2 separate regions of the Homo sapiens genome follow, and region 2 is linked to region 1. Evidence: fine-mapped expression QTL. A gene starts in region 1. The other region holds a variant in brackets. All regions are shown on one strand. Distances are between the middles of the regions. Region 1 holds the start of AEBP1 (AE binding protein 1). Region 2 has its middle 6.8 kb from the start of POLD2.

Evidence for each region.
Region 2: its variant is fine-mapped to the expression of AEBP1 in whole blood (INTERVAL, PIP above 0.99).

What each region holds. Positions count from the first base shown.
Region 1 is chr7:44,103,068-44,105,968 of GRCh38, forward strand. It overlaps AEBP1 (AE binding protein 1), which reads left to right and starts at 1,278. Exons shown (of 21, transcript NM_001129.5): 1 at 1,278-1,851. The coding sequence starts at 1,599.
Region 2 is chr7:44,128,862-44,131,762 of GRCh38, forward strand. No RefSeq gene overlaps it. Among named protein-coding and RNA genes, the nearest start is that of POLD2, 6.8 kb to the left of the region's middle. The variant A/T (reference allele first, on the strand shown) is at 1,112.

The DNA of each region.
Region 1 (2,901 bases):
GGACCCAGGTGCTTCCTGACCCACTTTTCCTCTTTCCTTTTGACCCCAGGTCCAAACTCTGCCCTGTCAATCATCCCAGGGGCTCCTAGGCTTCCCTACCTGACTACTTCACTGGGGCCAAACCCCGCAGACAATCGTGGCTTAGGGCTGTCTGCCTCTGCACTTGGCCCATGGACTACCTGTGAGCTTTCTCTTGTGTCCTCATTCCTTTAAGGGGGAATGTCCTCGGAGCTCTGTCCTTAGCTCCCCATTCCTCCAGTATGAGACAGGGACTAGGCTTGAGTCACGGGGGACTGTGCTGTGTCACGCCCTGCCATACTAATGGGACCACTCTGCCTGTTGATGGCCGTTGTAGGGCAGCCAACATTTGCCCTGGAGAAGCCTTATGGCAAACACCAGGCACCAAGGTGCACATCCCTGATGGATCCTGGGATCAGTTGACACTCAATCCACCTGCCTTCTGGGTCCTCTGGGCCCTCTGGGTCCATGTGGCAGCTGGAGGTATGGTAGACACTTTTTAAAAAATGAGTTCTGGTAAGAAGAAGGTGATAAATGGCTATTTGTCCACGTTGGGACCCGGAGGGGAGGGATGGCATGCCCTTACATGGGACTCCTACCCCCAGCGGGGCAGCTGGCCACTCTGAGGGCAGTTTTGCACCTGCCTCCTGGCTGGAAAGTGAGTTCCCACTGTGCTGTCCCTCCCTGGGGCCCAGCACGGGGCCCGGCCCCACACCGACCTGAAGAGGTTGGTAGGATGACTGAATGAATTGACGCTGGGATGCAGCAGGGCCCATGGGCAGAGGCTCCAGAGCCTGGGAAGGATGGGGTGGCCTTTCTGTGGCCCTCCGAATTGAGAGAGGTCTCAGAGGCCTGACACCACGGCTTTCCGTCCAGGGTTCCTGGTCACCCGCGGAGGGCTCAGAGCCCCGGTGGACTCGGGGTCCCGCCTTAAGGGGGGTGCCTAGGGCAGAAGGAGGAGGGATGTCGGCCCCCTCAGACCCGCACCCCAGGCCCTCCCCACCACCTTTCCTTCCCTCAGGCCCTCTGTCTTCCCAGTCGCCCCGCCCCCTGCCCCTCTGTCCTAGGCGCAAGTCTCCGGGCTTGGGACGCTCGCCGCCAGCGCCCGCCCGCCTGCCCCGCCCCTAGCCCCCCGCCCCCCGCCCCCCGCCCCCCCGCAGCCCCTCCGTCCACTCTCGGCTCCTCCTTCTCTTCCTCCTCCTCCTCCCCGGGGGTGGGGAGCCGGCTCCGGAAGCCCCGGCGCCCCCGCCCCGGGCCCCGCCAGCGCTTTGGAGACGGCTATCCGCGCGGGAGTGCGCCACGCGGGGCCGGAGCGCCTATTAGCCGCCAGGACCTCGGAGCGCCCCGACCACCCCTGAGCCCCTCTGGCTTCGGAGCCCCCCAGCACCCCTTCCCGGGTCCCCTCGCCCACCCTAATCCACTCTCCCTCCCTTTCCCGGATTCCCTCGCTCACCCCATCCTCTCTCCCGCCCCTTCCTGGATTCCCTCACCCGTCTCGATCCCCTCTCCGCCCTTTCCCAGAGACCCAGAGCCCCTGACCCCCCGCGCCCTCCCCGGAGCCCCCCGCGCGTGCCGCGGCCATGGCGGCCGTGCGCGGGGCGCCCCTGCTCAGCTGCCTCCTGGCGTTGCTGGCCCTGTGCCCTGGAGGGCGCCCGCAGACGGTGCTGACCGACGACGAGATCGAGGAGTTCCTCGAGGGCTTCCTGTCAGAGCTAGAACCTGAGCCCCGGGAGGACGACGTGGAGGCCCCGCCGCCTCCCGAGCCCACCCCGCGGGTCCGAAAAGCCCAGGCGGGGGGCAAGCCAGGGAAGCGGCCAGGGACGGCCGCAGAAGGTAAGAGCCCAGGGCAGGGCGGGGGTGTGGGGGGCTGGCATCTCAGGTGGGAACAGGGGGATTCGGTAGGGTCTGGCCACTCCCCAGTCTGCTAGGGGAGGAATGGCTGGCTTACTAATGCGCACGCGAGCCCAGATGCCTGGAGGGACCCTGTGCTAGGCCGAGGTCAGCGCTGGCGTGGAGGCACATCCAGCACCCGGGCGGCAGGGCCGCTTTTGGGGGCCGGTGGCTCTAGGGTTGGTGCTGTGGTTGTACGGGTCGCTTATCCCCATTCCTCCAGTACGCGACAGGTACTAGGCTTGAGCCACAGGGGACTGTGCTGTGTCACCCCCTGCCATACTAATGGGACCACTCTCCCTGTTGGTGGCACAGCTTCACGTCGTCCCTCCCTCCTGCCTTTGCCCTCCTACTCCAGGAGGTCTCACGTAGGTGAGAGAGTTTCAGGTGGTGGTGAGCACAGGGCTTCAGGTGGTGGTGAGCAATGGGTGGTCCTACATTAGTACAGGAAATTAGATGAGGTGATGCATCACTGAAGCATTTAACCCACGGCCTCTTGCATAATCAGTTGTCAGTAAATCTTAGCTGTTTTCATCGTGGCCCTCTGGAAGGTGGCAGAGGGTCTTGTGATCCCTGTCTCCCAGGAGATTCCAAGGCACCATCCAACATTCCTGATGTCAGCAGCCCCTCCCCTGCCACCCCAGCTCTAGATCTTTCCTGGCTGCTTCCCACACCCTGGGCTGCCTGTGCCCCTCCTGCCTCTGGCTCTCCTTCCAGGCTTGCTCTCCTGGCTCTGGGGCACCGCTCTAGCAGCCCTGCGTCCCCTGGCTGTCTGCATTTGGTAGCTTTCCTGTGTTTCTGCCAAACTTCCCTCATGCTCCCCACCTCTCATCAGGTTCTCAACAGCACTTGCAGCTCCTGCTTAGGGTCCTGGGAGGATTCCCATGGGGAATCCTCACAACCAGTCCCTGCTCCCTCTCCCAGACTCTGAAATGAGTGTGCAGCCACAAGCTCCCTACCTGTCTTTTCTGTCCTCTGTGTGATCCCTGAACC
Region 2 (2,901 bases), 26 kb after region 1:
AGGTGTTGCTGACAGCAAAGGGAGCAGTGGGTTAGATAATATTCTATTTTGGAGCTGTGTGGCTCTTTGTGTCAGTGGCACATCCTAGGGGACATTCCACAGCTGGGAGGGGTGGGGCTGAAGTACCTTGGCAGATGGAAGGTTAGAGGCTGCTCCAGACACCTGGGATGGTAGAGACAGATCAACGAGTCCCAAGGAAAAAGACAGTGAAGGGTTGACAGTGTGTTGGCAGCAGGAGGGAGGGGGGCAGCTAGGAGAGGGGCCAGAAAGAGGAGGTCTTCTCTCTCCATGCACACACATGCATATGCACACACGTGCATATGCACACACACACATGCATGCACACACACCCCCACATGCACATACACACACAGACACCTGCTACATACACACCCCCAACCTCTCACCTGCCACACCACCTTCTATGCCACACACTTGTGTCCACGCCCCCACAGGCATGGCAGCAGACAGCAGGCCAAGGAGAGGCTCCTTCTCACTGCATCTGGCCTCTGCTGTGCACTGCCTCGGGTCAGCAGGGCGGGCCCCATGCCAATGGCCTTTGGTGGGAGACACACCTTGCTACCCAGAGAGAAACCTCTGGGCATGACCTGCTGTAGTTGGCAAACTCCTCGGCCCCACAGCATCTATAAAGGCTCTCAGCCTTCAGTCTCCACAGGTCTGGAGGTTTGTCATGTGCCTTCATTCACTCATGAGATATTGCCAGAGCATCTGCTCTGTGCCAGGGACAGAGTTGTTCCTATCTTTGTGTTTGCTTACAGAAAGCCATAGCATGAGAGTGAGCAGGTGGGCCAGGCAAGGAGGAATGTTGCCCAGACTTGCACTGGGGGATGGCTTCCTAGAGGAGGTGACTCTGGACTGAGGCCTGAAGCCCGTGGAGGTCAGGGAGGGGCTGGGGGCAAGGGGGCCAGAATGCTGGGACAGCAACTCCCCTCACACAACCATAGCAGCAAAGCCTGGAGGGGCCAGGGTAGGAGGTTCTTGGGGAGGCCACAGCCCTGACAGCCTGGCCAGAGCTGCTCTCCTTTTAGCCTGGACTGAGCTCGACTTGACCTCAGCACCCAGCACCCTCCACTCAGAAGGGCTGGTCTCA[A/T]GGTAACTCCCACTGAGACTCACAGGCACTCAGGGACCAGTGAACAGTGAGTCTGGTGGGGTGGGCCTCTGTTTCTTGTAACAAAGGGTCAAAATGAAGAAAGGAATCCCAGTTTTTGGTTAACTTTTCTTAAAACTTTGTCAATGCTACTGTTTGTCTTCATCAGAACATGGGCTAAGATGAGGTACCACTCATCTATTGCTGCAAAACAAACCTGTCAAATCTTACTGGCTCAAAAAATGCAGCGGTTTCTTATTTCTCAGATGCTGTGGGCTGAGCCAGTGGCTCTTTGTCCCTTCTTGCCTGACCTTGGAAGTGGTCATTTGACTGGGTCTGGAGGTCCATCAGAGTCTCCTTCCCAGGGGTCCAGCCTCAGCCGGGGTGGTGCCAGGCCAGGCCTGTCTCTCCAAGTGATCTTTTATCCTGGGCTTTGTCTTATGGATGTCGCGTGGTGGCATTCAGGTTCCAGGAAAGTGAGAACTACAAGGCTGAGGTCAACAAACCACAGGCCAGCCCAGATCTGGGGAGTAGAGAAACAGCCTCATCCTCGTGATGGGAGGATCTCCACATTAAATGATACACAGAACTCTTTTTTCTGAGATGGAGTCTTACTCTGTCCCCCAAGCTGGAGTGCAGCAGTGCAATCTCAGCTCACTGCAACCTCTGCCTCCCAGGCTCAAGCGATTTTCCGGTCTCAGCCTCCTGAGTAGCTGGGATTACAGGCACCCGCCACCACGCCCAGATAATTTTTGTATTTTTAGTAGAGATGGGGTTTCCCTATGTTGACCAGGGTGGTCTCTAGCTCCTGACCTCAGGTGATCTGCCCGCTTCAGCCTCCCGAAGTGCTGGGATTACAGCCATGAGCCACCTTGCCTGGCACTGAATTCTTGAAGTATCCTGTGATGACTCCCCAGTGGTGTGCACACAGGGCTGTGGCTTTCAGGGGCTCTGCAACCCTGGGAGAATGAGGCCATCTGGGGTACCAGCCCACCCCCAAGTCCATCTGCACATTTGATCGAGGGCTGCAGGGTCACTGCCCTGTGGGTATGCCCAGTGGTTCTGAGTTAAATCAGCTTTGCAAGGGGCTTGCTCTGGGCTGACCTCAGAAGAGGAGGCTGGGAAGGTTGGGTTGGTGCTATCAAGAGGTTGGGTAATTCAGACATCTTCATTTTAAGCTCCTGGATATGTGTGGGACACAGAAACTTCCAGGTGCAAGGACTCAGGTTGCCCATGGGCTCTCCAGGCTGTGTGCAGCCAGTTGATTCTCCTGGAGAGGGAGCCCCAGACCCACAGCCTTGCTGCCTTGTGCTCTGCTCTGAGGTCTGTCTGCACAAAGGTCAATAACAGGCTCAAACCCAGCTCCACCACCTCCCAGCTGTGTGTAACCTTGGACAGCTTGCTTAACCACGTGGGGCCAATACTCATACTGTATTGGTTGGGGTTAGGTTCTGTTGTGAGCATGAAAGACTTCAAACAACAGCAGCTTCCATCAGGTGGAGTTTGTTCTCTTCGTGTAGCATTCGATGGGAGGTAGAGGTGATGTGTGATGCCCCCATATGTCAGAGACGCAGCCAGACCCAGCTCACGGCTCCCCCACCCTGTGGCTGTGGCCCTCATCTTCATAGCCCCAGGAGGCTGTGTGCCAGCTAGGTGTTAGCCAGCGGGTTGGAGGGAGGCACAAACATCTGTCTCTTAAGGAGAAAACTGCCACCACACCTAGTCATACCTGCCAGTGAGGGAGGCAGAAAGTGTAGTCTTTATTCTGAGGCCAGGGGTGTAACTACAGACTC